Linked DNA regions of Homo sapiens: regions 1, 2, 4 and 5 are each linked to region 3. Evidence: fine-mapped expression QTL. A gene starts in region 3. Each other region holds a variant in brackets. All regions are shown on one strand. Distances are from middle to middle.

Region 1 (5,102 bases), 970 kb after region 3:
TTGCATGTAGGTGGGACTTGCTGATAGGATGGGATTTCACTCCTGTGATTAGATTATGTTATGTTGCAGATGTGATTAAGGTCCCTAATCAGTTGACCCTGAATTCATCCAAAGAGAGATTATCTCAGTTGAGCCTGACCTAATCAAGTGAGCTCTTTAAAAGAGAATATCAGGCTTTTTGAAGGAAGAGATTTGAAGCCAGAGACATGCTCTCCCACTGTCCTTGAAGAAGCAAGCTGCTGTGAGTTCTATAGCTATAAGGAAATGAATTCTTCCAACACCACAGGAGCATGGGAGAGGAGCCAAGCCTCAAATGAGACCCCAGCCCCAGCCAGCACTCTGATTGCCGCCTTGGAGACCTTGATCAGAGGGCCTGACTAAGCCATGCCCAGACTTCTCATCTGCAGAAACTGTGAGATCATAAAAGCACATTGTTTTAAGCTGCCAAGTTTATGGCAATTTATTACATTGCAATGGAAAACTAATCCAGTCTGCTTTGTGACTGCCCCCACTCAAGGCTGTGGAGAAACTGCATGGGATGGTCCAGACCTGGCTTTAACCTCATGGGGCTCATGGTCTGGTTGGAAAGAAAATCTACACTCAAGAATTTAAATCAGTGGCTAGACATGGTGGCTCACACCTGTAATCCCAGTGCTTTGAGAAATCAAGGCAGGAAGGTTGTTTGAGGCCAGCAGTTCCAGGCCAGTCTGGGCAACATAGCAAGACCCCCATCTCTACAAAAAATAAATTTCAAAAAATTTTAGATTAAAAAAAAACCATGTGTGTAGTTCTAACTACTCAGGAGGCTGAGGTGAGAGGATCCCTTTATTAAGGCCAGGAGTTCAGGGTTGCAATGAGCTATGATCACACCACTGTACTCCAGCCTGGGAAACAGAGTGAGACCCTGTCTCTGAAAAAAAAAAAAACAGTTAAATCAATAAACAAGCTAGTTAGGAAAAGACTTTGAAAAAAATGAGCATGGCTTTGAGTCAGAGAGTAATTGGGGTGGGGGCTGCATTAGCACGGCTGGTGGTCAGTGAGGGCTTTTCTGAGACTATTTTGATGCCAAAATCCCAAGAAAGAGAAGAAACCGGCTGGTCAAAGAGCTGCAGGAAGAGCAATCCCAGCAGAGGGAACAGTATGTGCAAAGTCCTGGAGGCGCAAAGTGTGGTCCTATTTGACAGACCGTGTGTACAATCACTTCTCACTGAACAAACCTCCAGTTGTGGGTTTAGACTAGCACCCTTGAATAACATCTACCATTTCACATATTAAGCTGATTCTACAATGCATACAAATATCTTCATAGTCACAATCTATACAGCTGTGGTCATCTATTGGGGGCAATAGGGGGCTCTCCAGATGTAACCCATAGCTGGAATCTAGTGCCTAGTAAGCCATAGTATGGGTTTGGGGGGTGCAAGGAGGCACACACAACACCCGGGATGTCTGTTTTCTTTTTATATACTTTTCATATACTTTTTACGTATATGTATTTCGTGTGTGTGTGTGTGACAGGGTCTCACTCTGTCACCAGGCTGGAGTGCAGTGGCACAATCTCAGCTCACTTCAACCTCTGCTTCCCAGGCTCAAGCGATCCTCCAGCCTTAGCCTCCCAAGCAGCTGCAATGACAGGCGCAAGCCACTATGCCTGGCTGATTTTTGTATTTTTTGTAGAGATGGGGTTTTGACATGTTGCCCAGGCTAGCTTCTAACTCCTGAGCTCAAAGCGATCCACCCACCTCGGCCTCCCAAAGTGCTGGGATTGCAGGAGTGAGCCACCGCACCCAGCCACATATGTGTATTTCTTTTTACAGCTGCCTGAAATTTTGGCAGGGAGCACTGATTTTTCCATTATAGTAATGATATAATGTCAGCTCTATGAGGGTATAATTTGCATATAATAAAAGCCACCAATTTTAAGTGAACATTTTGTTGAGTTTTGACAATTGTATGCAGTCATATAAATAACCACCATAACAATCGTAATCCAGAATGTTCCCTCATCCCAAAAAAGTTTTCTCCCACCCCTTGGCAGTCAATCTCTTCTCTCCACTATCAGCCCCTGGCAACCACTACTCTTTGTCACTTTTGTTTTGAATTTTCTAGAATTGCATGCAAATGGAACCGCATTGTGCCTGGCTTCTTCCTAAACATACTATTTTGTTGTTGTTAATACATGTGTTTGGTGAGTGAGGAGGGTAACAGAAGTGAGAGAGACAGCGGTGTGCACAGCTGGTATAGGCTTGGAGGCTGAATGCCACACAGAGCAACACAGACACACAGACAGACAGTCCACCCAGCAGGGCAGGCCGGGCAGCATTCTGGGGCCTGTAACACTCGGTTGATCAGTGAGAGCCGGCAGGAGGTCTGGCCCAGGGCTGGAGGCACCCAGGCACCCTGGAGACTCCCTTGTCCGAGGTCCCAGGTGGTGTTGGTGGTGGCAGTGGGGCTCAGCTCACACCATTCAGGGCCTTGCAGGCAAACCTGGGCAGCACAAAGGCTGTGCGGTGTGTGTCTGGGCTGTGGCATTTCAGCTGCATCTGCCCCACCTGCTGCTGTGTCAGGTGCTGCACCAGCTCCCGGTCACGGGTGATCATGTTCTGCCGCACAGCATGAAGCCAGTCTGGCTGCAGGGGTAGATGGGGACCATGCAGTAGGTGTAGCCCACCACGGCTACTGGCAGAACTGCCACATCTCCTTATGAGGTGAAGGTGCAGCCACTGGTGCTCTCCCTGGCAGCAGAGAATGCTGTCCTCCGCGAGGGCCACCTTCACCTTCATCTGCTGACAATAGGCTTCCTTGAAGAGGCTTTCAGCCGGGCCCATGTGGTCTGAGAAGTCAGTGATACATCAAAGGCATCCTGGTTCTGCTTCATGAACTCAAAACTGTCACCCACATGAAGGATCAGCTTTGAACTAGAGTAGCAACTGGCCATGCCTAGCAGGAACTTCTTAGAGACTTGGATGACATCCTTGTCAATGTCACACTGGACCACAGACTCCATGGAGAGGTGCTTCCCCACCTTGTGCAAGACACCCATCTCTGCCCACGATGATCAGCACCTTTCGTGGCT[T/G]GGGGTGGCTGCAGAGAGGCAGGATGGCTACCATCTCCTGGCAGGAGAACTCATCCCTCCCTATGCCCAGGACGATGCCATCCAACACCAGCATATTGCTGTAGGTTTTACTGCAGAAGACAAGGATGTTCTGGTAGTGCGAGTGCTGGTCGTGGAGCAGAGACAAGGCCTGCCCGGACCACAGGCTACACGTCTGGTGGAACGAGACTTCGGGGATGGCAGTGAGGCTGGAGGCAGCAGGGCCCTTAGGGTCAGGCTCCATGGCAGGCAGGCAATGTGGGGCACGGACTTGGGACTACAGGCCACGTGGAGCCACAGCACACTGGGACCGGCTGCATTATACTTTTGAACTCCATTCCTGCTGCTTTTATCGGTAAATCATTTCTTTTGCGTTGCTGTTGAGTAGTATCATATTCCATTGTAACTGCATACACTGGTGTGTTTACCCATTCACCGGGTGATGCGCATTTGTGTTGTTTCATGATGAATAAAGCTGCTATGTGTGGACATATGTTTTCATTTCTTTTGGATAAATACCGAGGAGTGAGATCACTGGGTCAAACAGTGTGAGTTTCACTTTGTAAGAAACTGGGAACTGTTTTGACACAGTGGTGATACCATTGGAACAACCACCAATCATGTAGGAGTGTTCCGTCTGCTCCAAATGTTTGCCAACACTTGGTCTTGTCAGTCTCTCTCAATTTAGCAATTCTACTGGGTGTGTCGTGGCATCACATGGTGATTTTACTTTGCATCAACAAAGACATTGAGCATCTTTTCATATGCTCAGCTGCCACTCATATATCTTCTTTGGTAAAATGTCTGTTCAGATCTCTCATCTCTTTTTAACCAGATTTTTCACTTCTCAACATTGAGTTGGTCTCCATAACCTCCACCACCAGATGTGACTTTCATTATCATGTTATACTGCAGAACAAAAGTGACTCTGTAGATGTAATTAAGATTAAATAGTCAGCTGACCTTCAAATAGGAAGATGATCCTCAATTATCCAGGTGGGCTCAAGATAATTACAGGAACCCTTAAAAGCTAAAAAGGAAGGCAGAGAGATTCAAAGCATGAGTAGGACTCCACCCACCATAGCTAGCTTGAACATAGGGAGGACCACATGGAAAACATGAGAAGGAAATGAATTCTACCAACAACCAGGAAACTTGAAAGAGGACCTGAGTCCCAGATAAGAACCACAGCCTGGCAGATACCCTGATGTTAGCCTGGTCAGATCCTCAGAGGAGAATCCAGCCACATCATGTTGGAAAACCTGTGAGATAAGACATGGCTGCTGTGTCAAACCCCTAAATTTGTGGCAATTTGTTACACAGCAGTAGAGAAGTAATACACCATCTCTTTATTAACAGGAAAAAAAAAACCCATGAAACTTAAATTAGGAGACCCATGTATTTCAACACAAATGAGAGTGCATACTCCTTTGTGGCACTAAAGTATTCACACCTGTGTGTTGCTACGCAAACAAAACACACTTGTGTTGAAAAACTACAGCCAACCCCTTCCAGGACATACACCTCCTACCTGGCCCCCGTGGGCGTTTGAATTCATGACTCCGTTTTTAGAGTTTCTGGAAACTGTCTAAGTTCTCCTCCTCACAGCCTCCCATCCCAGGAAGCCCAGGCCTCTTGGTTCTCAGGGAAGGTCCTGCTCACAGTTTCCAGATGACATCATCCCCGCAGGAGCCAAGGCTCTAGTTGGAGGTGTTTTCTTCCATTCTTTGTGTGTTTTGTTTTGTTTTTTACCTTCTTAGACCCAGGAACCAGTCCAAGCAATGTGTGCTTCCCCAACATGTTAACACAAACAGCCGCTTCCCAAACTGAAGAGGCACATGCTACCTTAATTACGCGGTTGCTATTGAAACACTCAAGTGACAGACAAAACCTTTCATTTGGGGAGAAAATTAATTGTACACAAACAAGAGCACATTTCATCTCGAATTAAATTCTTCAACATTCCCTTGGCAGAGAACCCTCCGGCCGTTTCTCTCCTTTTCTTTTT
Region 2 (5,102 bases), 61 kb after region 3:
CTTGAGTCAGACTGTCATTTCCTGGTATACCTCCTGGGCAAAACATGTGTTTTGAAAAGCTTGACAGGTAATTCTTATGCCCGCTTCCTGGGCATCAGACCCACTGACCTAGAGATGGCTCCCACCTGGCTTTTAAAACCAGATTTCTAATTGTTCTTTTTAATTGGTAAAGATAGCACATATTCTTAGCAGACAATTGAAATCCTGCAGAAAATTTTAGAAAGTCCATTCCGTGATAAACCTCAAATTTACCTCCTTGGGCTTACAAGTGATTTATGGAGCACCTGCTGTGTACTGAGTGTCCAGGCTGCCGCAGTGCACAATACAGACAAAAGCTCTCTCCCTCACCGTGTGTGCAGTGAAGACAGACAGTGAAGGTGTCAGCCAAGGAAAATTTGTAGTGTTCTCAGGTGGTAAGTGCTATGGAAAAACATGAAGCAAAATTAGAGGGCTGGGCTGCTGGGAAGATGTGGCAGTTTTCAATGGTGTGGGCAGGGCAGGCTTCACTGAGGAGGTGACGTTTGAGCAGAGACCTGAAGGAGCAGAGTGAATGAGTCATGTGGTTACGTGGTGACAGGCGTTCCAGGCAGAGGGGACAGCCAGTGCAAAGGTCCTGTGGCAAGAGCCTGTCTCATGTGTTTCTGCACCTTCAAGGGTGCCAGTGTGGGAGGAGATGAGGGAGAAGGGAGTTGCGTAGGAGGTGAGGTCACAGAGTGTGAGCTCATTCTGATAGCGCAGCCTCTGTTGGAGGATTTTAAGCAGAAAGGCAACATGCAAGGGCTCTTTGATGTACGAAGCCGGCCCCATGCCTAGTGGGTGCTGGGGCTCCTAGAGATGCCCCAGCGACGACGGTAGAGTAGGTGTTTGTGGCTGTCCCTGTGCCTGTGGTGGGCGGGGGACACCTCTCACACACCTGGAGAGGATCCCCTCAGGATTCAAGGCACGTCTCATTCAACGGGGCAGCCCCTCATCTCCCCTCCCCCGCACCACCACCCCCAGCCTCTTTGCTTCAGAACCTGAGAGCAGACACAGGCTTCCTGTTCCCGAATCTTCTTAGAAGCAGGGTTGGGAGGCAGCGAGGGGGTGTGTGTGGAGGGTGGCTCGTCTCTTTGGCAACGGGCCTCAAAGAAGCCAGGGCTTCGTGGATGCACAGTTGTAGAAGGAATGGGAATGGGGTCTGGCTCTGCCTGAAGCCAGAACGATGTATTGGCCCTCAGGGCTTGAGCCAGGACAACCCATGCGTGGACAGTAGACAAACCAGGGTGGACGGTGACAATCTCCTTTTAAACCCTTTGCTGAAAAAAAAAAAAGGGAATAGTTTCTGTTGCAGGATAATTACAGACAGTGAAGTGCACAGCTCCATTGGTGATTACGTATGCATCACCACCAGGTGAAGATCTAGAACATTCTTTGCCTCCAGAGTCCCCTTGAGCCCCTTGCCAGTCTTTATCCAGCCTTGAATGACGACTTTTCTTTTTTTTTTTTGAGGCAGAGTCTCGCTTTGTCACCCAGGCTGGAGTGCAGTGGCATGATCTCAGCTCACTGCAACCTCTGTCTCCTGGGTTCAAATGATTCTCCTGCCTCAGTCTCCTGAGTAGCCACCATGCCTGGCTAATTTTTATATTTTTAGCAGAGACGGGGTTTCATCGTGTTGGCCAGGCTGGTCTCGAACTCCTGAACTCAAGTGATCGGCCGCCTCTGCCTCCCAAAGTGCTGGTATTACAGGCGTGAGCCACTGGGCCCGGCCGAGTGACGGCTTTTCTAACCTCTGTCATCAAAGAAGGGTCTTGCCAGTTTTGGGACTTCGTAGATGTGGAATCCCACGGGTGGCTGCACCCTTTTGTGTCTGGCTTCTTTCGCTTGGGCCATGTTTTTGAGATGCGTCCAGTTTGCTGCGTGTGTTAGCAATTTTCTTTTGATTACTGAATCATTTTCTGTTGTGTGAGAACACCACCATTTGTTCATCCGTTCTCCTGTTGATGGACATTGGTAATTTTAAAATTTGAGTTTTTATTGTGTTCCATTCTCTGTGCTAAGCACTTTATGTTTTGAGTGATATTTCCTTGAATCCTCAAAAGAACACTGAGAGATAGAGGCTTTTACTCTGTGTTACATACATAGGAATGGAAGCTTGGAGGCTTATGGAACTTCACCTCCTTTCCCCTCTTAACCAGTATTTATTCAGCATCTTCTGTCTACCTCAACCCATGCTGTGGATTCAGCACAAGCAGCCAGAGACCCTCACCATCACGGAGCTGGCAGTGCGCAGAGAGGAGGACTCTAAATTAGCAAAATGCATAGAACAACACTTTGTGCTACCTGCATTACAGGGAATTAAAACAGATTATCGAGGTAGAGGGTGGCTCGGGGGCGACTTGTGGCTTGGGTGAGGCTGCTTCAGCCAGGATGGTCAGGGGAGGCTCTCTGTGGAGGTGATATTTGAGCATCCTGTGCAGTGACGATGAGGGGCGGGGAACAGCACGTGCAAAGTCCCT[G/T]AGGTAAGAAAAAGCCTGGGGTGACCTAGGAAGGGCAGACTAGGCATTGGGGCTGCAGTGGAATGAGACACACGACTCTGGGGAAATGTCGGGAAAGTACAGCGTGGTCTGTAGTTGGAGAGGGCTGCTTTTACGTCGATGCACTGACAGATAAGAACCCCATCAGTGATGGTAACGTAAGCGTTGGCATTTCACTCTGGTGCGACTCTGAAGTTAGGGTTCGTTATCTATTTCCTTCTCTGAGTTAGGTGGAAACTGAGGTTCAGAGGCCCACGTACCCTCCCCCGCTGACAGGTGGGGACTTGAACCAGCTTGTCTGACACCAGAACCTCCATCTTCCAGCTCTCAGCCATCCCCTCTTCAGGGCCCTCGTTTGAGGGGGCTTCTTCATGCTTCTCTGGTTCCATCATCTCCCCTCCCTCCTCGGGGGCTCTGTCCCATAGTCAGGTCCCCCAGGGAAGGAGCCATTGAAAGACTCCCTTGCAGAATCCCTGGTGAGCTGTCGTAGTCTGTGGTGTGGCTGGTTGTCACTGGTCTGGCTGGAAGGCAGGGAGTCGAGGTGGTTAGAATGTGTGGGCCTGACCTCATAGCCCCAGAGCTGGGAGCCCTTTGAGATCCTCTCATCTGACCACTGTTCCCCGTTTCGCGGACGAGGGAACAGAGTGTGGGAGCAGCTTTCTCAGGGTCCCACAGCGAGTCTGTGGCAGGGCTACATTTGGCAACCAGGTCAGCAGGCCCTGAGTGGTGGGCGCTGTGCAGATGGGGAAACTGAGGCCCAGAGAGGAGGAATCAGTCATCTGAAATCATTCAGCTAGTGTGCAGCATTTCTCGTAGTCCTCATGGTAATCCATGAAGCCGGCAGTGTTATCACACAGTGTCTATTTTACAGGTGAGGAACCTGCCCCAGAGAAAGGGGTCTCCCTCCCTCTACCCGTCCATCCACTCACTCACCAAGAATGAGCATAAATGAAAGAAGATGGAAACTGGGACTAAGTGGGACCTCTGAGAGGTCTTAGGCTGGTGGGCAAGCCTGTTATTAATTGAATCATCACATAAATCAAGGTTAAGTTATAGTCATGGTGGCACTAAGTATGGGAGCCTATGCATGGGTTTCCTGGGCCCTGACCAACCTTGGATCTCACTGGGGAGGGCAGGGAATGTGAGACTTGAAGCAGCTGGCAGGAGGGAGATGAGTGTTGCAGGTGGAGGGAGCACCTGTGCTGAGGCCTGGGGGCAGGAGCAAGCTGGGTGTGTTTGGGGAACAGCTGAGGATCCTGGAGGCCGGTCTGGCTGCAGCACAGCTTGGAGGCTGAGGTCAGGTCCTGCAGAGCCCTTCTGGATGGGGTTCTCAGAGAAGCGGGGAGCGGCTGATGGGCTGGGCAGGGCAGTGGGTGACCACATTTGCCTTTTGTGACGATCCCTTTGTGTCACTCCACCCAGGGATGCCTAAGTGATCTAGGCCAGTGGTCCCCAGCCGTTTTGGCACCAGGGACGGGTTTCCTGGAAGACATTTTTTTCCACGGACCTAGGGGTGGGGAAGGGATGGTTTCAGGATGATTCAAACACATTACATTTGTTGTATACTTTGTTTCTATTATTATTACATTGTAACATATAATGAAATAATTATGCAACTCACCATAATGTAGAATCAGTGGGAACCCTGAGCTTGTTTTCCTGCAACTAGACAGTCCCATCTGGGGGTGATGGGAGACAGTGACAGATCATCAGGCATTAGATTCTCGTAAGGAGGGTGCAACCTAGATCCCCGGCATGGGTGGTTTGCAGTAGGGTTTGTGCTCCTATGAGAATCTGATGCTGCTGCTGATGTGACAGGAGGCGGAGCTCAGGTGGTCATGCGGGCAATGGGGATGGCTCTAAATACAGATGAAGCTTTGCTTCTTGCCTGCTGCTCACCTCCTGCTGTGTGGCCCGGTTCCTAACAGCCCACGGCCCAGGGATTGGGGACGCTGATTTAGGCCTCCCAACTCCTGGTCTTCCCACGAGGCTACACTATTCTCCTTCCCCTAATTAAATTCTCCCAATTTTTGAACTGAAGAAGCAGTATAGCCCCATGGGAAAGAGACTTGGCTCTGAAGCCCCTGGGGCCTGCACTTAGGTCTGGCTCCGTCCTCCTCCTCTGCATGACTTTGAGCAAATAACTCTGTTCCTTGTCTGTGAAATGGGGGTGTAGGAGTCGCTTCCTCCTGTACCCCTGGCATTGGCATGCAGTAAGCACTTAATATGTGTTGCAGCTGGTTGTCGTGTCCACGTTTCATTGGAAATGCAGGCATTATCTAGTTCTGACAGCTTAGTATCCCAAGGTTTCCCTTATCTGATCTTTCTAAATGGCTTCTTGCTTTCTAAACTCAGGAACTGAATAGATCTGAATAGTGAAAGATACTTGATGTTGCTGTAATTATTATAGTAATTACTGTTATTAGACCATCTGTCCTTAATGAATATTTGTTTGTAGATACTTTTGTGGGTGGGGAAAGAAAGCATTTTGCAGCTTACTAAACATATGCCAAACAATGTATGAAATGTATAGCTAGACTGTATGATAATATCTGTTTTGTAGTAATCATAATAACAGAGTATTAGGAT
Region 3 (5,102 bases):
CCAACTGCCTCTGGACCTCTTGCTAAATAATGTCCTTATGCTTTAAGCTATCAATAGCCCAGTTTTCTTCTCCTTGCAGCCAAATGCATCCTATTAGATTCAGCACTCAATCCACGCATTGTAAAAGACTTCACTTATTGAGCACCTACTGTGTGCTCTAAGCACCCTCCATGTATGCACTCAGGAACCTTGCAACGACTTTATGATGTAGGTACTGATATTATTCTTAGTTCACAGATGAGGAAAGCAAGGCACAGAGAGCTTAAGTATGTTACTAAACGCTGTATTATCTTTTAGTGTCATCATTACCACTGGGGATGGGGATGGAAGGGGAAAAAGATCCCAGCAGAATCTGAGGAAGTAACGATGTATAAAACATTGGGGTGGGCCAGAGATGGGACCCATCCACAACGTGGAAATGTTTTTTGGCAGTGTGGGCCAATTCTTGGGTGAAATGTGGGATTTGTGTGTAAACTTGAGGCTAACCTTCCTTGGTCATGGGCTGAGAAGGGAACTAACATTTGTTGAGCACCTACTCTGTGCCAGCTATGTGTGTCAGGTACTTTACATCAGTGGTTCTCAACAGGGGGCAATTCTGTCCCCAGGGATATCTGGCAATGTCTGGAGACACTTTTTCTGTTTATTTTTGAGGCAAGGCTTACTCTGTTGTCCAGGTTGGAGTGCAGTGGTGTGATCACAGCTTACTTGCAGCCCTGACCTCCTGGGCTCAAGCAAGCTCCCCACCTCAGCCCAGCAGCTGGTACTACAGGTGTGTGCCACCATGCCCAGCTAATTTTTAAAATTTTTTTGTAGAGACAGGGTCTTGCTATGTTGCCCAGGCTGGTCTTGAACTTCTGGGATCAAACAATCCTCCCACTTGGACCTCCTAAAATTCTGGGATTAGAGGCCGGAGCCACTGTGCCCAGCCTGGAGACATTTTTGATTCTCAGATTGGGGAGGGAGTGCTACTGGCATCTAGTGGGTAGGGGACGCGGCTAAATGTCCTGAAATGCACAGGACACGCCCCTCCCCCAACAAAGAGTTATGTGACTCCAAATGTCAATAGTCCCAAGGTTGAGAAAGTCTGTATTGCATAGAATTCGCTCTCACAAAGACTCCCCTTTTACAGATTAGACGACTGAGGCCCAGAGAAATAACGTGTCTTGGCCAAGGTTACCCTGCCAGTTGGATTTGGACTGGGATACAAATGCAAGCCCGCTTCATTCCATGGTCCATTATGTTCCAGCCATGTTCTCCCCTCGTGGTAGACAGAATTAATTTAAAGATGAGGAAACGGAGGCTCAGAAAGGTACCGTGAACAGTTTAAAGTCACAAAGCAGAGATACTCCAGAGGCCTTTATTAGGAATAAAAATATAAATAAAAAACCAGCTACCTTTGGACACAATTGACTCCACTACCCAAGCGTGACAGGCTCACCTATCTCATGTCCTTTACTCCCTGCCCAGGGGAACTTCACTCAGCCCAAGGCCCAGATCAAATGCTACCTTGCCCATGATCCCAAAGAAAGAAGTCAGAGAGGGCAGAAGCCACCCCATTCTCTCCCTGTGTCCTTAGGCACTTACAGTATTGAGAGGCCAATGGGAGGAAAATCCTAGGCTTTTGGAACAGGAATAAATAAGCAATGTTTCTGTCCATAAAATGACTACAGTCTAGAGGCGGATACTATGTGGATCACTTTATCCCCTGCAGAGACGATACAATCTCTGGTCCGGAAACACGGGTGATTAGGGATTGTATGGGCCATTTGAGAGTGGGGCCAGGCTTAGAGGGCCGTTCACACATGCAATAATAGTAAGAACAAACATTTACAGAGAACTTTCTAGGTGTTGGGCTTCACACATGCAATAATAGTAAGAACAAACATTTACAGAGAACTTTCTAGGTGCTAAGTACTTCCCATGGAACCCCGGGGAGGACCTTGGAGCTAGGTACCATGATCGTTCCCGTTATACTGATGAAAACACTGAGGATCTTGAAGCAAGGAAACCAGCCCAAGGCCACCCGGCCAGCAAGTGGGGAGCTAGGATTTGAACCTGAGCAGCTGACTCTAGGCCCCAGAACTTCCTCCCCTCTCCATACCTTCCGATAAGGCGGGTGATGATCAACATTGCCCAGAGCAACCTGACAAGAAGCTGGGTTTCCCAAGGCCTTATCCCATGGGGTGGGTGGATGGAAGGGGGAGCAGGCAGGGTACCTGCCACTTGATCAATAACTCAAGAGCAGGTAATAATTTCTTCTGGGAAAGGTGGAAAGGGCAGGGTCAGGGGGCAAAGAAGTTCAGAAAGAAAAGGAAGGAAGGAAAGAGAGAGATGGGAAAGGAAACGGGAAAGAGAAAAGTGAGAGCGAGCGCGCGCCACGCATGTTCCTTCCCAAGGTCGTGGTAGCACCGAGGGCACCGCGAGGGCCCGGCGTTCCCGGGAGGGGCCGTCACTGCCCAGAGAGGGGCCGTCACTGCCCAGGCAGCGGTCGCCCCTGACTTCCCGGGGCCGCGGAGGCGCGCGTGGCGGGGCTGGCTTGCCCCCGAGCGGCTCCGCAGCGAGCTTTCCCAGCCCGGTGTTTACTTGGCCCGAGCAGCGGCCGGACCTGCAAGCAGGAGCCTGCGCGCGGCGGGTGTCGCGTGTGCCGGGTGGGAGTGGCGTAGCCCGCGGTGACTGCGGGTTGGGGGGGCGCCACGCGTCCGGGCGCGGAGTTGGTACGCTCGGTTCGGCGTGCGCGCGGCCTCGGACTCCCGGCTCCGCGGGGCCCTTCCGGAGGCTCCCGCCCGACCCCCGAGCTTCCGACGGAGGCGCCGAGCGCCGCGCCGCGTCCCCAGGGGCCCCGTGCACGCGCAGAGCGCCTCTGCGGCCGAGCGCGGCGTGGCACTTGGCAGACGGTCCCTGGCGCGGGGGCGGGGGGCCAGCCGTCTGGGAGCCCCGAGGGCCGCCCCCTCCCGCCCCTCGCCCGGCCCCCGCGCGCTGCCTCCGCCCCCGGCCCAGCCGCCCGGCCCCCAGTCCCGCCCGCCGCGCCGGGAGCCCGGCCCGCCGCTGAGCCCGGCCCGCCGGCGCGCCCCGTCCGGGATGGGGCGCCTGGACGCCTGAGTTGCCGCTCGGCGCGACGGAAGGAGCCGGCGCCGCGCGGCCGCGCTAGAATGGAGGCGCCCAGCGGCAGCGAGCCCGGCGGCGACGGGGCCGGGGACTGCGCCCACCCGGACCCCCGGGCCCCTGGCGCCGCGGCGCCCAGCTCCGGCCCCGGCCCGTGCGCGGCCGCCCGGGAGTCCGAGCGCCAGCTGCGCCTCCGCCTCTGCGTCCTCAACGAGATCTTGGGCACCGAGAGGGACTACGTGGGCACCTTGCGCTTCTTGCAGTCGGTGAGTGTCGCTCGGGAGCTTGGGGACAGCTTTCCCTCCAGCCGCTCGCCCCGCTGCGGTCCCCACAACCTGTGGCCGTGGTCCCCGTGGGTGGAGAATTGCCTCGGGGGCGCCCCGCAGGGCGCGCGGAAAGCGGGGGGGATCCGAGCTCCTCCAGAGCTGTCGCGTCGCCTCCCTCCCTGGCCGGCGCACGGTCCTGCTCCGACCGGGGCTCTCCCGCACTCCACTTCCCCGCGGCGCGCGCTGCCCTTTTGTCTTTTCTTCCCCGTCCCCGCCTTTCAAATAGTTTTAAAATTAGTTACATCCGCGATGCAGGGGCTTGGGGACCCCGGCGGCGCCGGGAGCTGGCGCTCCTGCGTCTTTTTCCCAGGAATAACTACGCGCCCGGTGCACCACTCATCTAGGACATACCGTAGGAGCCCCAGAGCCCAACGTCCCTGCGCGTTGATGGAGTAGGATAAAACCTGAAGCTCAGAGGAGGGGCGGGGATTGACAGAACCCCAGGGTAGAATCCCCCATGCACAGGTTTTTGCTGGAGTTCGGGGAGAGTGGGTTTCGAACTCAAAACTCGGCAGTCCAGGCTCCCTAACTGCATCCACCCCCACCAACTCCCCATCTCCAAGTGCAAAACCACGGCCTCAGACTTTGTAAAATAACAACCGACCACTTACTATGTGCCAGACACCTTACATGTGTCATTAATTAGCAGGTTTAACCTTCACAGGCGGTCTATGAAGTAGGGACGAGTATTTCCCCCATTTTTAATTAAAAAAATTTTTTTTTGAGACGGAGTCTCCCTCAGTCACCCAGGCTGGAGTACAGTGGCGCAATCTCGGTTCACTGCAACCTCCGCCTCCCGGGTTCAAGCAATTCTCTTGCCTCAGCCTCCCGAGTAGCTGGGATTACAGGCACGCGCCAGCCACCACGGCCGACTAATTTTTGTATTTTTATCAGAGAGGGGATTTCACCATGTTGGCCATGCTGGTCTTGGACTCCTGGCCTCAAGTGATCCGCCGACCTCGGCCTCCAAAGTGCAGGGATTACAGGCGTGAGCTACTGGGTCCTGCCTCCTCCGTTTTTAAGATTGGGAAAGTTTAGCTCCAGAGGGGCCGGGTAGCTTGTCTGGGATCGCACAGCTGATTAAGTGGGGGTACTGGGCTTTGAACCGGGACTATCCCAGCTGGTGTTCTAAACCCCTATTCTATGCTGCATTTTTCTTTTGCTTTTTTTCTGTGAGAGGGAGGAAGGGGCCACTTCCCTACTCTCCTAGGAAGTGAGAAAAGTGGCCAGCGGGTGGAGGGGGTGGGACGGGGCAGAGCCTTGGATGGAAGTTAGGAGACTCTAAAGTCTTTAATCTCCATGCCTCCTGCTGGGGCCTCATTTACTCCCCTTCTCTGCTCTAGGAAGTCTTTTAATCCTGGTTCAGGAAGGGCTGGTGTGGGGGTGGCTCTTTCAAAGACCCTAGAGCCAGGCTTTGTAGCTCCTAGTCTTTGGGAGAAAGAGGGAGACTCTGGGGTCCTCTGGGGCTCCTCATGGCTTAGGGGTGCAGCTGAGGCTGTGTGAGATCAGAGTTCCAGCTCAGGGAGGAGACAGCCTTAGACTAGAGCCCTTCTGCCTGTGAAAGGAGATGTACTGGGGGCAGGGGGATGTGGGAGAGGGGGTTGTGCAGAAGCATTGAAAACCATTTGGCTAAAGGACCCTTCTAGGAAGGCCTGTAAGAATAAGGCAGGATTG
Region 4 (5,102 bases), 150 kb after region 3:
TTTACTTGCTTATCTTTACAAAGCAAGATAGTAAAACATGATAGGTGCTAGGGAAGGAGGGTAAAGAGTGTGGTGTTGGCGTTCACTTTTGAATAGGGGAGATGGGGAAGGCCTCACCGAGAAGGTAACATTGGAACCAGGACCTGAGCCACCAGTGAGGGAGGGACCCAGGTGGGCATGATGGTTCCAGGCAGAGGGAACAGCCAGTGCAAAGTCCTCAGGCAGAGTCTAAGTGGGTTGTGCAGGGAATAGCAGGGAGGGAGTGTGGCTGCCTCAGAGTGAGGAGGGGGCGTGGTAGGAGACGAGGTCAGAGGGCACAGGGCTGATGGGAGAGTCCAGGAGGTGAGATGAGATCCTATAGAGAATTGTAGGGTCTTTGGCTTTTACTCTGAGTGAGCTATGAAGCTGTTGCTGAGCTCTGCGTAGAGGAAAGACCTGCTTGGACGAACACGCTGGCAGAATCCCTCTGGCTGCCCTGTGGAGACTGTTGGGACCAAGGGTGACAGCAGGGAGCCCAGCAAAGAGGCTGCTGTGATAGTCCAGGTGGGAGGCGAAGGTGGTTCGGGCCAGTGTAGGAGTGAGGTGATTGGTATCTTGAAGGTTAGGGCCTTATAGGCATTGCTAATGGATCTGAAGCATCAAGCATGACTTTGTGGGATAGAGATGGCTCCGTAAATCTCAGCAATGTGGTCTCAGGCCCCAGCATGCTTGTCCCCACCCATCCATTGGTGATCTAGATCTAAGGACATGCTGAGCCAGAGGGGTCCCAGTGCAGGCTGGATCAGGGGCATTTCTGGGTCCCTCACCCCTGTAGATGCCCCACCCCAAGCTGCGAGTCTCAGCAGGGTCCTGCACGTAGCAGGAGGATGGGGTATCCTCATGTGCAAAATGGGGAAGTCATAGCACCCACCTCGTGGGGTTTCAGTGAAAAAAAAGCCTGGCCAGCAGTGAAGCCTGATGCTGGTGGGTGTGACTGGGAGGGGCAGAGGGGGCGTGGCTGGCAGTGAAGGCCAATGCTGGGGGGCGTGGCTGGGAGGGGCTGAGGGGGCGTGCCCAGCGTCACAGGTCCTCCTGTCTCTCCAGTTTCCGACAAGCACCAGTTCAAGAATGAGCAGGTGATGTATCGCTTCCGCTACGACGATGGCACCTACAAGGCCCGAAGTGAGCTGGAGGACATCATGTCCAAGGTAGGGGCCCTCCGCCCCTGTGACTCTGACTCAGCTGGCCTCGTTCACCTCCACCCTGGGTTCGCCTCAGAGCAGGCCTGTGCCCCTTGGCTTGTTTGCCTTCTCCACTGCCCACAACTCACCCCTGCCCCCATTACCCTGCCCTGCCCCGTCCTGGAAGCCATCTCTCCCATCAGCCTGGATTTGGAGGCTCGTGAAGGATGTGGCCTGATCCCAGAATTCCTCCCCTTTTTTCTTTCAGGGTGTGAGGCTTTACTGCCGTCTTCACAGCCTCTACACCCCGGTGATCAAGTAAGTTACTCTTTCCAAGCTCCAATTTCACCTCTACCTCTTCTCAGCTGTGTGGCCTTGGGCTGGCAACTTAACCTCTCTGAGCTCCAGTCTCCTTCTCCATTAAATGGGGCTTGCAGTGGCACCTATCCTTTAGATTTGTCATTAGGATTAACTGAATTAAATTGTGGGAAGCACTGCAGTGTAGTGATGCAGGTGTCAGTTCTGGAGCCAGACAGACTGAGCTTGAACCTCCCTCCTAGTTAGCAGCTGTGTGACCTTGGGCAGAGTTACTTAACCTCTCTGTGCCTCAACCGTTTCCTCTGTGAAATGGGGATAATAATGGGCTCCACCTTAGGGCCTTTGTGCCTGCTGTTCCCTTTGCTTAGGATGCCTTTCCTCTGCATACCTTCATATTCGTTCCCTCACTTCCTTCAAACGCCTCCATATCACAGGGGTCTTCCCTGCCTACCTGCATAAAGTGTCACCAACCTGGTACTTTCTGTCCTCTGTATTAGTCTGTTTTCATGCTCCTGATAAAGACATAGCCAAGACTGGGTAATTTATAAAGAAAAGGAGGTTTAATGGATTCACAGTCCCACATGGCTGGGGAGGCCTCTCAATCGTGGAGGTATGTGAAAGGCACGTCTTACCTGGCAGGCAAAAGGAAAATGACAGCCAAGTGAAAGGAGTTTCCTCTTATGAAACCATCAGATCTTGTGAGACTTATTCACTACCACAAGAACAGTATGGGGGAACTGCCCCACGATTCAGTAGTTTCCCACTGGGTCCCTCCCACAGTATGTGGGAATTATGAGAGCTGCCATTCAAGATGAGATTTGGGTGGGGACACAACCCAACGATATCAGCTCCCTTTGTTCATTTTAATTTTCTTCTTCTTTTTTTTTTTTGAGACAGGGTCTTGCTCCGTTACCCAGGCTGGATTGCAGTGGTGCAATCACAGCTCACTGCAGTCTCAACCTCCAGGCTCAGGCAGTCCTCCCACCTGAGCCTCCTAGGTAGCTGGGACTACAGGCGTGCACCACCATGCCTAGCTAATTTTTTTTTTTTGAGACAGAGCCTCGTTCTGTCCCCCAAGTTGGAGTGCAGTGGCGCAATCTTGGCTTACTGCAACCTCCGCCGGGTTCAAGTGATTCTCATGCCTCAGTTGCCTGAGTGGCTGGCATTACAGGTGCCTACCACCAGGCCCGGCTAATTTTTGTATTTTTAGTAGAAGTGGGGTTTCACCATGTTGGCCAGGCTGGGCTCGAACTCCTGACTTCAAGTGATCTGCCTGCCTTGGCCTCCCAAAGTGCTGGAATTACAGGCGTGAACCACTGCACCTGGCCTTTTTTTATATGTTTGGTTTTTTCTTTTTCTTTTTTTTCTTTTTTTGAGACGGAGTCTCGGTCTGTTGCCCAGGCTGGAGTGCATTGGCATGATCTCGGCTCACTGCAACCTCTGCCTCCTGGATTCAAGCGATTCTCCTGCATCAGCCTCCCGAGTAGCTGGGATTACA[G/A]GCATGCACCACCATGCCTGGGTAATTTCTATATTGTTAGTAGAGATGGGGTTTCACCATGTTGGCCAGGCTGGTCTCAAAACTCCTGATCTCAAGTGATCTGCCTGCCTCAGCCTCCCAGAGTGCTGGGATTACAGGTGTGAGCCACCGTGCCTGGCCTTATTGATTGAAATTTAAATTAAAATGGCTACCTATTGGAGAGCAGAGGCCTAGGGACTCAGTAAAAGCTTGTCAGTGAATGTTGAAAGATGATTAACTTCTTTTGCTTCTGTTTCTGCATCTGTTAAGTGGACATAAGAATAGCTCTCACCTCTTGGGTTGCCATGAGGATTAAATTCACGGAAGGTGCTTTGAATGGCTCCTGGCATTGTATAATGAACGCCAGAGATTGGTTATTCTTTTTACCACAAAGCTCACAGTTGTGGATGAAGGGAGAGAGGGTGACCTGATTCTTATCCCAGCTGCAGATTTTTCTGTCCTCTGACCTGATAGCTCTTATCACCTCTCGGAAGAGTGGAGAGGAAGGACCATTTCCTAGCATTTGCTGGCCCCGTGGGATGTCAGGCCCTGGGAACCACTTTCATCTGCCATCCTGCCTCCGCCCTCCTGGGCTCCTCTGCTGCTGCTCTTGTGCAAGCCCCAGAAGGCAGGTGGGGCTCCTTGGCCAGCCTCAAAGAAGGAAGCGGCTGGGGAAGGTAGCAGACCCCCACCAACTGCACGTGGAGCCTGTCAGACCCCCCCAGTCCTAAAGCCTGAGAGAAATCCTCCAACTAGACTTTATCAGCCTTGGCATGGACTGGCCACAGAAGCGCGTTTTTGTCACAGCTTCAGAGGCTGAGAAGTTGTTGCAGTTCGGCTGCAAGGTTAGCGGAACCCATGGGATCCAGGCTCGGCAGGGATTCAGATGCTGTCACAGGCCAGGGCAGTTACCTCAGGAAAGAACCGTGAAACTCACAGGCCTCTGTGCTGCTCGGCCCTGATAGACCACACCAGCCCCTTGCAGGGGCTTTCCACAATGGTTTGGTTTAAATACATCAATGTCAACCACAAAACAAAAAGGAAAAAGGAAAGGAAAGAATGGAGGGTCTCCCCTGCCACTCTGTGAGAGTCAACATGGCTCCCCAGCCTCGGCGCCGGTGGCATCGTAGCCAGGATGAGTCTCTGTTGGGGGCTGCCTGGCATTGTAGGATCTTCAGCAGCATCCCCGGCCTCTACACACGGGATGCCAGCAGCACCCCTGCCCTAGCCCCTCCAGGTCTTGACAGCCAAAAATGTCTCCAGACATACCCTGAGGGCAAAATCACCCCCAGCTGAGATCTCCTGGGCTAGAGACAGAAAGTTTCCAGAGCCCTGGAGCTGCTGCCTCCTGCCTCCCACTCTGTAGGTGGAAGGAGGCCTGGTTTGGAACAGCCCTGCCCTCGGTCACACTGCAAGTGATGTGTGGAGTCTGGGCTGAGACTCGGACCCCTGCCCAATGCCTAGAGAGCCTGGAGATCCTTGACTCGTGGGCACGTCCTGCAGGGAAGTCAGGACCACCCCCACCTCTGTCCTCCCCGCCCTGCCCTGCTCACTGTGCGCTCACCTTCTCCACAGAGACCGTGATTACCACCTGAAGACCTACAAGTCAGTGCTTCCCGGGAGCAAGCTGGTGGACTGGCTGCTGGCTCAGGTGAGGGCCTCCTCAGGGGTGTGTGACCAGTGTTCTGCTTTGTCCGTCAGTGTGGGGCTTTCTGTTTTGTTTAAAGATTTTTTCTTATTGCTTTTAATTGTGGCAAACTGCACAGAACATAAAATTTACCATCTTGATCTTTTTTTTTTTTTTCTTGAGACAGAGTCTTGCTCTGGCACCCAGACTGGAGTGCAGTAGTGCAGTCTTAGCTCACTGCAACCTCCGCCTCCCAGGTTCAAGCAATTCTCCTGCCTCAGCCTCCCAAGTAGCTGGTATTACAGGCGCACGCCACCACACCCAGCTGATTTTTGTAATTTTAGTAGAGTCGGGGTTTCACTGTGTTGGCCAGGCTGGTCTCGAACTCCTGACCTTGTGATCTGCCCGCCTCGGCCTCCCAAATCACTGGGATTACAGGTGTGAGCCACCACGCCCGGCCATCTTGATAATTTTTAAGTGG
Region 5 (5,102 bases), 69 kb after region 3:
ATTTTGCCTCCAGGGGACATGGGCAATGTCTGGACACATTTTTGATTGTCACAACTGAGGAGAGGAGGGTTGTTATTTGTATCTAGAGGGTAGAGGGCAGGGAAGCTGCTGAGTGTCTTATAATACTCAGGACATCCCTCACAGCAAAGAACTATCCACTGAACTGTCAAGGTACCAAAGTTGAGAATCTCTGCTAGAATCCCACTCTGATGAGCCCATTTTTCAGGAAAAAAATCAACAACTGAGGAGCCCAAAGGAGTAGGGAGAAGCTGGGTTGTGAATGGGAAGGATTTTAGACCATTTCTGACAACAGTGAAGGGAGATAAATTCTGAACGGCTTGGAGAAGACTTAGCAGGAAAAAGATCTGCATTCCATTAGTGATGTCTGCCCTGGGTGAGGGTAAAGGCGAAGTAGCAGGTTCAGGTTTGCCTTGCCTGTGTCTAGGACAGAAGTCTCACACTCAGGTGTTCACAGGGCGCAGCAGTGGGTTGGGTGGTGGGAAATTGAGGAGCACTTGTCCTGGGTGAAGGTGATGGCTATCACTCTGCTCTACAGCACCTGCAGCCTTGTGGGCATTTGAGACCCATGTGTCAGTTTTTTCAAAAGAAGCTTGGAATTTGGATTTTAATGGGAAACCTGATATTCAAACTTAGGCCCAAGTTTCTCAAACCCCTCTGCAGGCCAAAGGAATGATGCCTCTGAGTTACCAGTTTGAGACCCATAAGGTAGCCCCATCATGTAGAGGAGGCTCTGCATAAATATCTGTTGAAGGAAGGATGGGTTGTTGGTGAACTCAGGAAAGTTTGTAGGCCAGGCCCCAGCCCCTTGATGGGGGCTGCGTGAAGAAAAGCATTGGGTTCCTCTCAGTGTCCCCCACTGCCTTCCCCCACTGTTGCATCAGACCTCTTCATGACAGGTTGTTGCAACTTGTTTTTTGCATCAACTTCCTCTCCCGATGTGGTGGGGAACGGGGCGGGGTGGGGTGAGAACTGGGCACCTTTTACCAGGGCCTAGAATCTGGGTGGGGGTGGGAGTAGTCTACTCTAGATGATTGATTGACTAATTAATTAAACACATCCTTTTCGAGGGTCTGCTGTGTGCTGGGTCCAATCCTAGGCTCTGGGACACCACAGTGACCTAGACAGACAAACATCCTTGCCTTCCTGGAGGTGAGACTCAAGTGGGCTAGATGGATAATAGACTGATATAAACACACATAATGTCCATGGTGACAGGTGCTGTGAGGAAAACAGAGCAGGGATAGACGTTTTCGATAGGATTGTCCTGGAAAGACTGAATGTGCCTCGGGGCCTTTGCCCCGGCTGTTGACCCTGCCCATGATGCTGTGTCCTCCGATACACGCAATGCTGTTTGCTCCCTGTGTCTGCTCAAATGCCATCTTCTCAGAACGGCTTTCTCTGAACAGCTCCTTGAAATGGCATTCCCACCTTATCCTTCTCTGTTTTCTTACCCTGCTTTAGTTTTCTTTGTAGCAATCATTCCTACCTGCCATTTTATTTTAAAATCAGTGTATAGTCTGTCTCTGCCACTACTTTGTGAAGGTGGGGAGTTAGTCTGATTTGTTCATTCACTGATGTGTCATTGGCTCTTAGCGCAGTGCCTGGCACATAATAGGTGTGCAGTAAGTATTTGCTGACTACACAGGCGAATGTAAGAATGCATAAGTCCTTCCGTGGCAGGGTCATGGCTTATATCTGTGTCTCCAGCACCCAGCTCGGTGCCTGGTGCACGGCAGGCCCTGGTTAACACTTGCTGGGATGGTTGGTACTCGGAGAGGACTTGTCCCCCTAGAATATCATCACAAGCAACTTCCTGCCCCTTTCCTAGTCCAGCCTCCCTCTCCTGGCTCAGCCTTTCTGCCACTTTTTCCAGGAAGTGTTTGTAGTTACAAAGTGTTCACCTGCATCATTTCACTTAAACCTCAACAACTACTCCTCCCCCCCTTTTTGTTTGGTCCAGGAAATTGACTCAGAAGTGTGGTGACTTGCTGAAGTCACGTGGTTGGCAGTCAGCAAGGAGGATGGGGCAGGGCAGAGGGGTGCGCTGGTGGTGATGAGGATGTGGGGGGCTCTGCAGTTTATAAAGCCTTCCCCTTCTCATCTCACCTCAGGAGACTCGGAAGCAGGCAGTCTATAATAATAGAGCTATTTGCAGGATGGAAAAAACTAATAAAAATAAGTAAAAATAGTGTGGGATAAATGTGAGTGTGCTTGGTGCATGTAGAAGCCCTACAGATGTGGTTGATCCAAATCCAGGTTTCCTTAGGAAGCACAGTGGGTTCTGTCTACCTGCACCAGGGCTTGGACTCCCTGCAGACACTCTAGAAACTCAAGATGGGGAGATCATAATAGCCAATGCTTTTTTTTTTTTGAGGCAGGGTCTTGCTTTGTCATCCAGGCTGAAGTGCAGTGGTGCGATCTTGGCTCACTGCAACCTCTGCCTCCTAGGCTGAAGTGATGCTCTCACCTCAGCCTCTCGAGTAGCTGGGACTACAGGTGTGCGCCACCACACCTGGCTATTTTGTTTGTTTGTTTGTATTTTTGGTAGAGATGAGGTTTTGCCGTATTGATTGATTGCTCGAACTCCTGGGTTCAAGCAATCAGCCTGCCTCGGCCTCCCACAGTGTTAGGATTACAGGTGTGAGCTCACAGGTGTGAGCCTGGCCAATAATAGCTAATGTTTTTTGAGCACCTGCTATGCACCAGGGACCATTCAAGTGCTTGTTATGTGTGTTAGCTTCTGTAATTCTCATTGTAATCCTGTGTACTCATTTTATCCCCCGTTATAGAGGAGGAAATGGAGGCAGAGAGAATAAATAATTTACTTCAGGTCT[T/A]AGAGCTTGTAAGCAGCAGAGCTGGGATTTGAGCCCATTTAAATGCTTTGCCTGTAGTATTTCTTTTTTTCTTTCTTTTCTTTTTTTTTTTTTTTTTTTGAGATGGAATCTTGCTCTGTTACCCAGGCTGGAGTGCAGTGGTGCGATTTCAGTTCATTGTAACCTCTGCTTCCCAGGTTCAAATGATTCTCCTGTCTTAGCCTCGCAAGTAGCTGGGATTACAGATGTGAGCCACCATGGCTGGCTAATTTTTGTATTTTTTGTAGAGACAGGGTTTCACTATGTTGGTCAGGCTGGTCGCGAACTCCTGACCTCAGGTGATCCACCCATCTCAGCCTCCCAAAGTGCTGGTATTATAGGCGTGAGCTACCGCGCCTGGCCTGCCTGCAGTATTTCATATCAGCCTCACAATAGCCCATGAAGTCAGTAGTTTTATGGTCCCCATCCATGTTATAGATGAGGCCCAGAGAGATGGAGTCAGTTGCCTAGGTCACAGAGCAGTAGGTGGCAGGGGCAGGATTTGAACCAGGTGGCTAGTTCTAGCCTTTGAGCCTCATCCACTCTTACATACTGCTTGCTTAGGAGATACAGTGCCCTTCTAGCAAGGAGTAGAGAGAGTTTCTAAGGGTAGGGAGGGCTTCTGAGAGTTGGGGCATGGGAGGAGGAGGTGGAATGCTGGCCATATCTTTGGCCTCCGCAGGGGAATGTGTATGGGTTCCCCGCAGATGCAGCCTGGATTCAGGTGGGCTAGATGGATAATAGACTGATAATGAACACACATAATGTCCATGGTGACAGGTGCTGTGAGGAAAACAGAGCAGGGATAGGCGTTTTCGATAGGATTGTCTTGGAAAGACTGAATGTGCCTTGGGGCCTTTGCCCCAGCTGTTGACCCTGCCCGTGATGCTGTATCCTCAGATACACGCAATGCTGTTTGCTCCCTGTGTCTGCTCCACGTGAAACCTGCCTCCACGTCTGACCGGGGACTGCCTGTGGTTCCGCAGCCACCTCCTCTGACCTTCAGCCCTGCACATGTAGAGATTTTCCCCATCAGCTCAGAAGTATTTTGGTGTTTTAACAGGCAGCGAGGCCGTCCTGGTGTGTATTAGGAGAACATCTGCTGAAGTGCCTGGCCTGTGTGGCTGCGGTGCTGCAAAGCCCTGTCTTTCACCCCCCCAAGCTCGGGGGGGCCCTACACCCTCTTTCTTTTTGAGGCTGCATTGCGACACCTCAACCACTCCAGGGCACACCAGAGGGACGCTCCACTGCCAGCACCTGCGCTCCTCTGCCTGATGGCTTTGTCTGCTCTGAGCTGCTCTGTCACTTTCAGGGAAGATGGGGAGTGCCAGGATCACCCCCACTGCCCTTAAACTAGTGACAGACAGGGCTGATGTACAGACTCCCTGGCCTCCTCACTCCCTGAGGGTGGCTGTGAGGTGTGCGTTCCACACGGTCTGTCTGGGGCCTCATGGTGGTAACTTGCTTGGTCTCATACCCTTCGTGGGCTGCCTTCCCTTCTTGGTTCCACCTCCCTGTTGGTGTTTCCAGGGACCATCTCCCACCTCCCACCTCCCAAAGAAACTACTTGTACTCCACTTCTTGCCTCAGGGTCTGCTGCATCTGGGGAACCACCCCAAGGGTCCTGTCATGGTACACCCGCTAAGATGCACCCACAGCACACACTCCCTGCATTCTCTGTGCACATAGCCACAGGCAGAGTTGATTGGTAATTTTGTAGACATTTAAATCAAGATTTATTCTTTTTGACAATGCAGTTTTCCTTTTGTATTTGGAGCCAATGCACGTATTTTTAAAGGCCTCCAACATTTCTATAGGTCCAAGGAATGGTGCCAAGGAAATGTGCCCAGGGAAGGGGCCTGGTCTGAGCTGGTCCAGGGGCTACACGGAATTGAAAGTGCCCACCCCTTCACTGGACATTTACTGAGGACTTATTGGGCACCTCCTGTGATCCTGGCTGGATCCTGGGGGCCGGGGGCTCCCACCGTGGGCAGAGGCAACAAGTTATTTACAAGCAGTGTCAGATTTAATCCTCATGTCAGCGACTTGCAAGGTGAGGCTCCATTACACAGATTTTATAGATGAGGCAACTGAGGTGCGAGGCTTGGCCGACTCCAGAGCCTAATGTGTGATTCATGCCCTGTTTTCCTCTTTCCTAAAAAGGGGATGCAGTAGCCCACCTTGTGGGATTGTTATGCAGGACGAACATGCTGACCATCAGTCACCTGC

The links. PIP is the estimated chance that this variant, and not a neighbour inherited with it, causes the effect. A credible set is the group of variants that fine-mapping cannot tell apart.
Region 1: its variant is the best candidate, but not a certain one, in a credible set for the expression of PREX1 in aorta (GTEx, PIP 0.59).
Region 2: its variant is the best candidate, but not a certain one, in a credible set for the expression of PREX1 in fibroblasts (GENCORD, PIP 0.52).
Region 4: its variant is the best candidate, but not a certain one, in a credible set for the expression of PREX1 in whole blood (INTERVAL, PIP 0.62).
Region 5: its variant is the best candidate, but not a certain one, in a credible set for the expression of PREX1 in whole blood (INTERVAL, PIP 0.74).

Annotation. Positions count from the first base shown.
Region 1 is chr20:47,858,024-47,863,125 of GRCh38, reverse strand. It overlaps the pseudogene SRMP1. Among named protein-coding and RNA genes, the nearest start is that of SULF2, 75 kb to the right of the region's middle. RefSeq lists an enhancer at 5,090-5,102. The variant T/G (reference allele first, on the strand shown) is at 3,077.
Region 2 is chr20:48,765,158-48,770,259 of GRCh38, reverse strand. All of the region lies in intron 1 of PREX1 (phosphatidylinositol-3,4,5-trisphosphate dependent Rac exchange factor 1), which reads left to right. Among named protein-coding and RNA genes, the nearest start is that of PREX1, 60 kb to the left of the region's middle. The variant G/T (reference allele first, on the strand shown) is at 2,496.
Region 3 is chr20:48,825,908-48,831,009 of GRCh38, reverse strand. It overlaps PREX1 (phosphatidylinositol-3,4,5-trisphosphate dependent Rac exchange factor 1), which reads left to right and starts at 3,011. Exons shown (of 40, transcript NM_020820.4): 1 at 3,011-3,368. The coding sequence starts at 3,150. RefSeq lists silencers at 2,358-3,037, 3,448-3,517.
Region 4 is chr20:48,675,736-48,680,837 of GRCh38, reverse strand. It overlaps PREX1 (phosphatidylinositol-3,4,5-trisphosphate dependent Rac exchange factor 1), which reads left to right. Exons shown (of 40, transcript NM_020820.4): 12 at 1,084-1,187; 13 at 1,429-1,478; 14 at 4,570-4,645. Among named protein-coding and RNA genes, the nearest start is that of PREX1, 150 kb to the left of the region's middle. RefSeq lists a silencer at 919-1,088. The variant G/A (reference allele first, on the strand shown) is at 2,977.
Region 5 is chr20:48,757,402-48,762,503 of GRCh38, reverse strand. The region is part of intron 1 of PREX1 (phosphatidylinositol-3,4,5-trisphosphate dependent Rac exchange factor 1); the gene reads left to right. Among named protein-coding and RNA genes, the nearest start is that of PREX1, 68 kb to the left of the region's middle. RefSeq lists enhancers at 1,054-1,103, 3,891-3,970, 3,484-4,478 and a silencer at 1,634-1,683. The variant T/A (reference allele first, on the strand shown) is at 2,856.